Linked DNA regions of Homo sapiens. The protein of the gene in region 1 interacts with the protein of each later gene in a pairwise test. Each region holds a gene or a part of one and is shown in the gene's direction. Other genes may lie near its edges.

Region 1 (3,748 bases):
AGGCTTTGGAAGTAGGCAGGTTACAAAACGATTGAGTTTCTATTTCTTCCAATGTAAAAATGAGAAAATAATAATTGACATAAAGAATTGTTGTAAGGTCTAGAGATAACATATGTAAGAGCACAGCAGATTCCATGGTACCATAGTAGATGCTTAGTGACTATAAATTGTCGGTTTTTTTTTTTTTTTTTTTTTTTTTTTTTTTTTTTTTTTGAGACGGAGTCTCGCTCTGTCGCCCAGGCTGGAGTGCAGTGGCGGATCTCGGCTCACTGCAAGCTCCGCCTCCCGGGTTCACGCCATTCTCCTGCCTCAGCCTCCCAAGTAGCTAGGACTACAGGCGCCCGCCACTACGCCCGGCTATTTTTTGTAGTTTTAGTAGAGACGGGGTTTCACTGTTTTAGCCGGGATGGTCTCGATCTCCTGACCTCGTGATCCGCCCGCCTCGGCCTCCCAAAGTGCTGGGATTACAGGCGTGAGCCACCGCGCCCGGCCAAATTGTCATTTTTATAAAGTTAATGCTGACAGGGTGGAATGCATGATGCCACATCTCTGCATTATAAAGAACTTGGGGATTGTGAAAGAAAGATGCTCTTGGCCTTTGTAATCTGTCTTTATTGTGTGACTCTGCAGACACAAGTGTGTATGTTTCAGGTCTTAAAGGGTTGGGCAGCCGTCTTCAGAAACAGCCCAGGATGGCAGCTCACTGCCGACTGGCCAGCTCTTGGCCAGCAAGTTAGGAAGATCAGGCCAGCTGAGCAGTCCGTCCCCAGAGTACTCCAGTTCTGGTTATGCTACTCACAGGCTGAAGCGCTGAAGAAAGTCCTTTTTCCAAGCCTAGTTCAATATTCTATAAAACATGTATAATAATTCTGCTCTAGAGAGAGGGGTGGTAAATTGATGGACTCACTGGGCATTGTTATCTGTTTTGAAAATGAAATCTACAATGAGCAGTACATTTATTTAAAGAACACTTTTCTTTGCAGAAAGTGGAAATGGTTTAACTTCTTTACTTTGTTTCACTAGTTAGTTAGTGTGCATCTTCAATGTCTCTGCCTACATCATTATTTACTATGATATCAAAACTCCTAAGGGCAAAGATGATGTCTGCTTCATTTACTTTTTAGAGCACCCAGAAAAATGCCATGAACAAGTATATTTTTAATCCACTCATATGCTGTTATTGTAGATTGAAATATAAACTATATCCCATACTCATAAAAATATTTTGTTCTTATTTGAATCATTTAAGACCAAAAATCTGTAAAACTTCTCTATCAGAGCAGCACTGAATGTCCTTACAGACAGAACAAATGCATACCTTTTGGTTTATTTTAATTTTAAAACATTGATATTGACTGACTCTTTATTACAAAAGTCTGCCCAATGTAGAACATGTGAAAAATGCTGAAAACCATATAAAGGAAATGAAAAGTTTTCTTTAATTCCCATGCTGGAAGATAATCACTTGGAACATCGTGGTATTTTTTCCTAAATGATTCATTTTAAGGCGTTATTAATATCATCTAATTCTTAGCTAATTTTAAGACTTTCGACATGTTTCTTCTCACTGTGATTTCCATCTTTTCAGGTAGTGATCCTGTGTTCTTTCCAGCAAGAATTATCGTTTTGTTGTTTTTCAGTGCATTGAAACATGTTGTCGGTTAAAGGAAAGGGTTTGCCATGAGCTGCTAGTCACTTACCCCTGTTTCAAAGGAAACTTGTGGTTACCATGAAGGAAAATTTAATCCATCTGCCACAATGCATTTGTTCTCCTGAGAACCAGGTGGAACTACCTCTGACTATTTCCTTAGGATTATGCCACCCACCAAGGTAACTTTCTATTTCAGTAGGTGATGTTGAGAAACAAAACAACACCCTTTAAGTTAATCAGTTTTGGAAAATAGAGACTGGCTTTCTATTCCATGGCTTTGATGTGTTTAGTAGTTCCTGTAAGGATCTGCCTCTCTTTTGTTTTGATTGACAAGACTTTTCCTATATATTTGAGCAATCAAGCAGCCCAGTAACAGAAGGTAGAGACATTTACCCAGGGCAAACTTCTACCATTCATTGTGACTTCCTGAAATCTTAGTGCAAGTTTCAGCTCTAAAAGAAGAGTGGGCTCCTGCAAGATTAGGTAAGTGCTTCTCCGTATTTGTAACCTCATTCCAGAGGAGGGGAAGCCCAGAGAACTTGCTACAGTAAGGTCAGAAGTAGGAACTGTGAGAATAATGAATTCAGTAGGGGGTAAAGGTCCATGAATGCCATATCCTTTATACTTCAAAATCCACGTGAGTTCTGTCTAGTGGGCCAAGCATGAAGGGGGTTGATTCTGGCTCCGGAAAGAGCACGGGGAATGACCAAGACCCAGAGAGGGTGGACTTGACGGTGGATTGAGGTTATGTTTTAAATAACTCCTATGCTTTCCATCATTTGGATTTAAATTGAATCATAAGTAGATGCTGTTGCAGTGGAAGCCTAGAGCAGAAGCAATTTACAGTGAGTAGGACACATTTATGAATGGCCACCAACTCAGGTGATAGGTTTCATGATATCTTCTGCATATCCATGTTTAGTGGTGAGTTGGTTTAGTAACGATGCATATAGGGAATACTATTATTAATATTTATCAACCCCTCCAAATCATTCCCCATCATGACACTGAAAATATAGTTTTGAGCAAAGTATGTAACATGGCACCCAAATACCCTGGACCTGAATAAAAATAATTTATATGTATTCATGTATTCTGTTGGATTATGGATTAGTTTTGGTGTTACTCATATTTTATGTTTATTTTGGAAAGACCACTGGGACAAACTTCTTTAACACACAAGTCAACTGCAGCAGTTAAGTTACAATAAGGAAAAGCCTGAGAATGCACTTGGAGGATGGGCATCTAGAGAGGGCCATGGAATCCACACTGGCACCAGTTACAGGAATCTCTGGATGCCTGTGTTGGAGTTTGTGGGCATTTACAATTTCTGGGCTCATTTTCCCTGAAATGCTAGGAGCAAGGTCCCTTTGATAGTGACAAATGCATGGTTGGCTGTGCCATTGAAGGCAGCCAGATCTGTTAAACTCTGTCCTTTCCCTCTCCGGAAGAGCAGCATGAAGCTGGCATTCCTCTTCCTTGGCCCCATGGCCCTCCTCCTTCTGGCTGGCTATGGCTGTGTCCTCGGTGCCTCCAGTGGGAACCTGCGCACCTTTGTGGGCTGTGCCGTGAGGGAGTTTACTTTCCTGGCCAAGAAGCCAGGCTGCAGGGGCCTTCGGATCACCACGGATGCCTGCTGGGGTCGCTGTGAGACCTGGGAGGTGAGTTGCTAAGTTGTGCAGATGACAGTGTCTTCTAGGCCAGCAGCTTGGGTCTGATTCTTAAGAGTTCACTTTTTAAATGATATGAGGTAGAGCTGGGACATCTGCCCTTTCCTGTGGACTTAAAAAACCAAAACAAAACTATGATTGGCATCTTCCAAAAGTGATTTGAAAAACATGATGTTGCCCCTCTAACAAAGCATTGATAAGGTTAAGAATTTGGTTTACATTGTGTCTATGTATCTGGGAATCATCTCTGGGAGGTCAAGATGTACTGTTCTACCCGTTTTACAGATGACATGGAGGGATTCAAGGGAGAGTGGCTGCAAAGTCACGTAGAGCGTCAGTGTAAAGCTGGGAATCAATCTGTGGTTCAAGCTTGTGACCCAAACTCCTCCCTATGTTTCCTCATTTTGGATAAATTAGCCAGTTTCCA
Region 2 (3,748 bases), on another chromosome or scaffold:
GCCCTGCTCACCCAAGAGACCTCTTCCCCAGTTCCAGTTTGGCCCCAAATGGTTGCCTCTCCATAGACAAAATGTTTCCCACCTCTCTATCCCTTTAACTGTTTGACAGTAATGCAGATTCGTTTATCAGATTAACTGGAAGTCAATCCAGGTTGGCACCCCTGGAGAAGGCCTGGCCACCTGAGCTGCCTTCAACTAAAGGACTGATCTGTAATAGACACTTTAGCCTCATGTGGCCGTGGAGAACCAAAATGATCTATGGAAATGTAGGGAAACTCATTTTAGCTCACAACAAAGGAGTCACTTTTTACCTGTTAGAGATGTCCAATATTAGAATGGGCTACCTCATAAGGTAATGAGCCTTGTCACCCAAATGCTTTAAACAGAAGCCATCATCTGTCACATGCCAGAGGGTGCCCCTCAAGAGTGGGAGAGCAGGGGCTGAACTGCTGAGTTCCCGCTGCGTCCTGTTGCTATGCTGCCTGCACCCTTGGTGGGGAGAAGAGAAGAGGTGGACTGCTGCGGAGGACCTGGCAAACAAGGACCCAGGTCTTGAGGGGATGGGGGCTGATGGGGAAACCGTAGGGTGTGGGAATTTAAGGATTAGTGACATTAGTAACATCACTTCCTCTCAAATTGCGTTTACAGCCTTTACTCGACTGTCCCAAACATGGCCTGTTTTACAAAGCTGCTAAGAAGCACAGCTCCAAATCTGGAGCTGTGAGTGCCCGCCCTGACTCTGACTAGCTTACAGTGAAGCTTTGGGAAGTTGTTTTCCGCTGAGCTCTTATTTTCTCATCCAGAAAATGAGGGGGTAGGATTTGGTGAGTTATAAAGTGCCTTCTAGCTCTAGCAGTCTGTGACTGGCCCTGCTCTTTCTGAGCAGATCAGTGAGGCAATGACCCCAAAGCGGGGCTGCCCAGAATCACCACAGGCTTCCTTTGGCTCTCCACCTTGCCCCAACCCCTCTGGCCACTGCTGCCTGGGGGTCTTTCTCCAGCTTGCCACATTCTTGCTCAAGTGTAGTTTAGCACCATGGATGGACAGCAGATTTGAATTTGAAATCAGCCCTAACATTAACTAGCTGGGTGACTTTTAGTAACTTTCTTTCTTTGAGCCTTAGTTGCCTCATCTATAAAACCAGAGTTGGACAAATAGATCAGCTTTGCTGGGGTTGATAACTTCAGGCCCTTTCAGGAGTCAGGTCCCTGTTATTCCAGGGCTAGGGGAGCACTCCAGCTCAGAACGTTACTCTGTAGCACAGGATGCGAATCATCCACTGATACCGTGGCCATGCAACTCTGAAACAGACAGCAACCCCCAAACCCCCGGCCCTGCCACCAAGCACATCTCAGGAGACCTCCACTGGTATAATTTCCCTTGTCCCTAAGAATCTCCTTCCCCAATCCCTTTCCTTTGCAGTTAGAAAAAGGCAAGCAGGACTGAGTTTAGTGGTTTTAAAATTAGGGGTGTGGCCAGGCACAGTGTCTCATGCCTGTAATTCTAGCACTTTGGGAGGCCTAAGCAGGCGGATCACTTGAGCTTAGCAGTTCAAGACCACCATGGGCAACATGGCAAAATCCTGTCTCTACAAAAAAATACAAAAGTTAGCTGGTCATAGTGGTGTGCCTGTGGTCCCAGCTACTCAGGAGGCTAAGGGGGAGGATGGCTTGAGTCTGGGAGGCTGGGAGGTGGAGGTTGCAGTGAGCCGAGATAACACCACCACACTCCAGCCTAGGTGACAGAGCCAGACCCTCTCAAAATAATAGTAATAAATAATAATAAAGTTAGGGGTGATCAGGCCCTGAACAGGGAAATGTTCTGTCCAAGGTCACAGAGCAAAGAGAACCCAGGTGTCCACAACTCAGCCAAGAGTCTTGACCCCTGTGTCGTCAGCTGCACACACGCTGCACACTCCACCAGCTCCTAGGCTTCTCTCCACATCTGACTTATCGAGGCCTGGGCTGTGGGTAGCTTTTTGGACAGAAAGAAGCAGAAAGCAGCAGGAGCTGCTCTCCGAGGACCGCACCTCAAAGAGCAAGATCCCCCAGGTGGGATCGCTCTGAGGCTTCAGGCAGGGGAGGCTGGTTTGAAAGCCGATCTCCAAGAGGGCGTGGCTCCAAAATGCTGGCAAATAAAAGCCTGGAGAGCCAGCACCAAGCTGGAGACCAGCAGGAGGCACAGGAAAACTGCAAGCCGCTCTGTTCCTGGGCCTCGGAAGTGGTGAGCTCGCTGAGGCAGGAGGAGCTCTGGGGAGGGTCTGGGAATGTGGACGAGGGCCCTGCAGGCCAAGATGGGGCAGATGGAGGGAGGAAGATGTTTGCGCTCCAGATGGCGAAGAAAATTCCAGGGAAGGGAGAATCACTGCACAGAGGGCTGACACACAGGTCCTTTCCAGAGACAGCTGCTCACACTCACACCCATACACACACACACACACACACAAAGGCAGATACAGGGAAAAGGCAGCACCATTCAGGCACACCTCACCTGTCAGACCAGCCAGCCCTGGCTCACTCACCTGGAATGCAGTATTTAAAGAACTCGCCATCCCACCTGCACACCCACGTAGAGACATCTCCCCACTGTGTTTCAGATGCCTATGGCGTCCCCTCAAACCCTGGTCCTCTATCTGCTGGTCCTGGCAGTCACTGAAGCCTGGGGCCAGGAGGCAGTCATCCCAGGCTGCCACTTGCACCGTGAGTACCTCTGGGACCGGAGGGCTAGGAGCAGTGGAGGTTCTGGGTGGGAGCAAAGAGCTGAGTGGACGGTGGGGCAGGCAGCACCCTAAAGGGCCCCACACTGAGGCACAGGCAACGGGAGCTGGGGCGAGGCAAACCTTGGCAGAGGCGCCGTCTACTGCTTGCCTATCTCCTTCTAGCCTTCAATGTGACAGTGCGAAGTGACCGCCAAGGCACCTGCCAGGGCTCCCACGTGGCACAGGCCTGTGTGGGCCACTGTGAGTCCAGCGCCTTCCCTTCTCGGTACTCTGTGCTGGTGGCCAGTGGTTACCGACACAACATCACCTCCGTCTCTCAGTGCTGCACCATCAGTGGCCTGAAGAAGGTGAGGAGGGCCCGGGCCCGGTGGATGGACGCTGGGGTCGCGGGAAGACCAGAGAGATGGAGATCCTAGACAGCCCTGAGAAAGGGGACTGCAGCACGGACTCCCCTCTCCCGCAGGTCAAAGTACAGCTGCAGTGTGTGGGGAGCCGGAGGGAGGAGCTCGAGATCTTCACGGCCAGGGCCTGCCAGTGTGACATGTGTCGCCTCTCTCGCTACTAGCCCATCCTCTCCCCTCCTTCCTCCCCTGGGTCACAGGGCTTGACGTTCTGGTGGGGGAAACCTGTGTTCAAGATTCAAAAACTGGAAGGAGCTCCAGCCCTGATGGTTACTTGCTATGGAATTTTTTTAAATAAGGGGAGGGTTGTTCCAGCTTTGATCCTTTGTAAGATTTTGTGACTGTCACCTGAGAAGAGGGGAGTTTCTGCTTCTTCCCTGCCTCTGCCTGGCCCTTCTAAACCAATCTTTCATCATTTTACTTCCCTCTTTGCCCTTACCCCTAAATAAAGCAAGCAGTTCTTGAATTTCTCTCTTTATTAAGTCTACCCCCAGCCACGGAAAGAGGAGTAGACCATGATTACTGTGAACCCCCCCTTACCCCAGGACACTGTGAATCTCTTCTTGCCTGTGCCCTCCCCCTCCCCCTGCCCAATAAATAAAAAGGGGACAAGGAAGTACACAGCGAG
Region 3 (3,748 bases), on another chromosome or scaffold:
CTGCCTGCACATAGATGATCAGAGGCAAGTAGTCGAAGATATAGTTAAAGACATGACGAAACTGGCACATGTGCCTGTACAAGTGTGACACGGATTTGACCCTGAAGCTATGTTTAAAAATGGTTCCCAGTGCTAGGAGGATTTAAAACTCTTATAATAAAAATTATAGTAGTAATAGCCTGCTTACTGATCCCTTATTTACTATCTGTACTCATTCAAATGGTAAAAGGTTTCATCACTACTCTAGTTCACCAGAATGCTTCAGCACAAGTGTACTACATAAATCACTATCGATCTGTCATGCAGGAAGACATAGGTAGTGAAGATGAAGGTGAGAACTCCCACTAATAAAATGAGTGAGAGTCTCAAAGTGGGGGAATAAGGGAGGAGACCACCCCTCATATTGTCTTATGCCCAATTTCTGCCTCCAAAGAAAGAAGTAGTAAAAACTAAAAGGCAGAAATGAAATCCACAAGCAGACAGCCAGGCACCACACCCTGGGCCTCGTAGTTAAAGATCGACCCCTGACCTAATCGGTTATGTTATCTATAGATTACAGACATTGTATAGAAAAGCACTGTGAAAATCCCTGTCCTGTTCTGATCTAATTACCGGTGCATGCTTGCTCAATCGATCACTACCCTCTCAAGCGGATCCCTTTAGAGTTGTGAGGCCTTAAAAGGGACAGGAATTGCTCACTCAGGGAGCTCAGCTCTTGAGACAGGAGTCTTGGCCGATGCTCCTGGCGGAATAAACCGCTTCCTGCTTTAACTCGGTGTCTGAGGGGTTTTGTCTGCGGCTTGTCCTGCTACACTACAGCAAAAATTAGGTTGTATTATAGAAAATTAACTTTTTTGGTTTTTTTGAGACGGGGTCTCGCTCTGTCTCCCAGGCTGGAGTGCAGTGGCACCATCTCGGCTCACTGCAACCTTCACCTCCAGGGTCAAGCAATTCTCCTGCCTCAGCCTCCCGAGTAGTTGGGATTACAGGCACACGCCACCACGCCCAGCTAATTTTTTAAATTTTTAATAGAGATGGGGTTTTACCATGTTAGCCAGGCTGGTCTCAAACTCCTGGCCTCAAGTGATCTGCCCACCTCAGCCTCCCAAAGTGCTGGGATTACAGACGTAAGCCACCACGCCCAGCCGAAAATTAACTTCTATTAATTGCATACCTGGGTTTGCCTACTGAGAATCATACCCTGGATATTTGTATTCTTTACTGAAAAGAACTGTTCTATCTTTCCAGAAAGTGGTTTCCTAAATTCTGGTTTTCCTCCTGGAATCCTGCTATTTCCTTCTCGCATACTCTAGAGAAATCGAAGTGTTTTCAAAGGTGCTCTGAAGCTTACGCTCCACTAGTTTCACAGTAAATCGCCCCTTGCGAGGGCGCTTTTTTTTTTTTTTTAATGTGTTCTCTGAATCGCTTTCCCCCTTTAACACTGCATGACAAGACTAAAGCCAGAATCCCAAGACTGCAGCGCTACCCCTTCACAAGCCGTCGGGCTGTCCCGGGCGGGGCCGGCCCATTTTCACTTTCTCCACTAGAGGCAGCAGCGCACCGTGACCCTGGCTTACTACGGTAAGAAAGCGGAGACCTTTTGCTTCGAGGCGGTTGGTGGCCAGTAGTCTTGATCGACAAGCTCAGGCCTCTGAACTAAGCAGCCGCTGTTTATGCACGTACAGCCAATGGAAAGGCAGGAGTGCGGCCAACGGCCAATGAGGACTGGTCTTAAGCGGACCACAGGGCGGGGTTTCCCTCGAGAGGCGAACGCCGGGTAAAAGATCGGGAGCGGAAGTGGGCGAGTCAGAGCACATCCGGTGTTAGAAGCGCTGGTAGGCCTTGGAGAGGCGGGTTAGGAAGGTACGTCTGAACCTAGTACTGGGCGAACTGGGAGTGAGAAATGGAAAGGGAGTTAGCAGTTACTGTCTGAGCAAGAGTGGCAGTAGCTTCCTTCTGCGGACAGATGGCACCCTGAAGGAACGAGGCCCTGCTCGGAGACCAGACTCGGGAAAACAGGGTGTGGAGGGAAGCTAGGGAACTAGTGCTGCGCGTGCGCAACAGTGCTGAAGCGGGGGTGGGGCGGAGGCGAGTCTGCGGGGGTTTTGGGGGGTGTCGAGGCCTCTATTCTGCCCCAGAGCGCTGGCGAAGGCCCCTTCTCAGCCCGCCTTTTCCTTTCTCCCGCTCCTTCTCCTCTACTAAGTGTAGACGCAGGGCCCCTTGGCCTAGCTTCGATCGTTCGAATTCAGAGCACGTCCTTCCGAGGTGAAGGAACGCGAAACTCCACCCATCCGATTGCTGTTCGGCTGCGGGCGGGTCCTTTGGTCGGGCTGACCCTGGGTGAGCGGCCCGGAGCCAAGACTCGAGGTAGGGCCTGGCGGGCGGGTGATGTCACACTCCTCTGTGACACGCGAGGCTCCTCAGTTACTTAGCCAACGGCAGAGGCGGGAAGTGAGAGGAGTCTGGGGCTGGGGCTGCCTTCCAGGCCCACGGGGCGGCCCCGCTCTTTTCGGATTGGTTACCTTTGGGCAGGTGAGGTGGCTTTGCTTTGCTTGGTCTTGAGGTTTTGTGGGCGTCTTTCTAAGTCTGCTCAGCAAGGGCGTCGTTGGGCAGTTTTTATCTTGGGCCTACTTGCTGGACCTGTGGTAACAAGTAGGCTTTGGTATCTTTGTATATTTACTGAGTGTAGAATTACTACCCGGTGCCAGCCCGGGCTGCTTGGGGTCATCAGCCTTTCATTGACCACCCCCACAACAAAAATCACTATGAACTTGAGACTGTGTTCTAGCAACTTGTGAATGTGTAACCCAGTAGAAGGGCTGACTGTGCTTGAAACAGACAAGGATTTTAAGGTCAAAGGTAAATAAATGGCAAATGGACTTTTCTAGTTACTTATTGATATTTATTTACAGTTTATCTTTTGTATGTGTGGTTTAAGAATTGAATTCTGGAAAGATACCGGAATTGCATAAACACATTTCTTATGACCTGCGTATACACACTTTTTTCTGTAATTATTGTATTTACACTCTTTGGTGTTTTCTTATTCTTTGTGTCTAATATTTTTGTTCTGGCCTAAAGAATATGTTGACATTTAGATTCTCTGCCGCCACTTTCCTCCAGTAGGGACAGAATAGTTGAACCCTTGAGAAATACAATCTGTACTTTTGATCCATAGTTTGCTTCTTCCGTTATTTATCTGGTTGTGGAAACATGGTTTAGTACCTTCCTCCTCTTTTTTTTTTTTTTTTTTTTTGAGGCAGAGTCTCACTGTCGCCCAGGCTAGAGTGCAGTGGCGCAGTCATGGCTCACTTGAACCTTGACCTCTCCTGGCTTAGGTGATCCACCCCAGCCTCCTGAGTAGCTAGGACCACAGGTGGACGTCACCAGCTCCAGCTAATTTTTGTATTTTTTGTGGAGATGGGGTATCACCATGTTGCCCAGGCTTACCAACTCCAGAACTCAAGCGATTTATTTATTTATTATTATTATTATGTTTTTTTTTTGAGACAGTCTCACTCCCTTACCCAAGCTGGAGTGCAGTGGTGCAATCTCGGCTCACTGCAACCTCCGCCTCCCTGGTGCATTCAATTCTCATGCCTCAGCCTCCTAAGCAGCTGAGATGACAGGCGCGCACCACCATGCCCAGCTAATTTTTGTATTTTTAGTAGAGACGGGCTTTTGCCAAGTTGTCCAGCCTGGTCTCGAACTCCACACCTCAAGCGATTCGCCCGCCTTGACCTCCCAA

The links.
Region 2: the proteins of GPHB5 (region 1) and GPHA2 interact in binary tests that used the Homo sapiens proteins (3 or more experiments, as listed by UniProt).
Region 3: the proteins of GPHB5 (region 1) and TMBIM6 interact in binary tests that used the Homo sapiens proteins (3 or more experiments, as listed by UniProt).

What each region holds. Positions count from the first base shown.
Region 1 is NC_000014.9:63,317,210-63,320,957, reverse strand, and holds the start of GPHB5 (glycoprotein hormone beta-5 precursor), read left to right. Parts: upstream 1-2,022; 5' UTR 2,023-2,134; intron 2,135-3,107; 5' UTR 3,108-3,108; coding exon 3,109-3,312; intron 3,313-3,748. UniProt on the Homo sapiens protein: Functions as a heterodimeric glycoprotein hormone with GPHA2 able to bind and activate the thyroid-stimulating hormone receptor (TSHR), leading to increased cAMP production. Plays a central role in controlling thyroid cell metabolism.
Region 2 is NC_000011.10:64,934,309-64,938,056, reverse strand, and holds GPHA2 (glycoprotein hormone alpha-2 precursor), read left to right. Parts: upstream 1-2,163; 5' UTR 2,164-2,223; intron 2,224-2,596; coding exon 2,597-2,699; intron 2,700-2,881; coding exon 2,882-3,066; intron 3,067-3,182; coding exon 3,183-3,284; 3' UTR 3,285-3,586; downstream 3,587-3,748. UniProt on the Homo sapiens protein: Functions as a heterodimeric glycoprotein hormone with GPHB5 able to bind and activate the thyroid-stimulating hormone receptor (TSHR), leading to increased cAMP production. Plays a central role in controlling thyroid cell metabolism.
Region 3 is NC_000012.12:49,739,749-49,743,496, forward strand, and holds the start of TMBIM6 (bax inhibitor 1), read left to right. Parts: upstream 1-1,808; 5' UTR 1,809-1,863; exon of another isoform or gene 1,864-2,020; intron 2,021-2,120; exon of another isoform or gene 2,121-2,388; coding exon of another isoform or gene 2,389-2,532; intron 2,533-2,689; exon of another isoform or gene 2,690-2,859; intron 2,860-3,668; exon of another isoform or gene 3,669-3,748. UniProt on the Homo sapiens protein: Endoplasmic reticulum (ER)-resident protein that confers cellular protection as an anti-apoptotic protein by limiting multiple stress-inducing pathways surrounding the endoplasmic reticulum and mitochondria.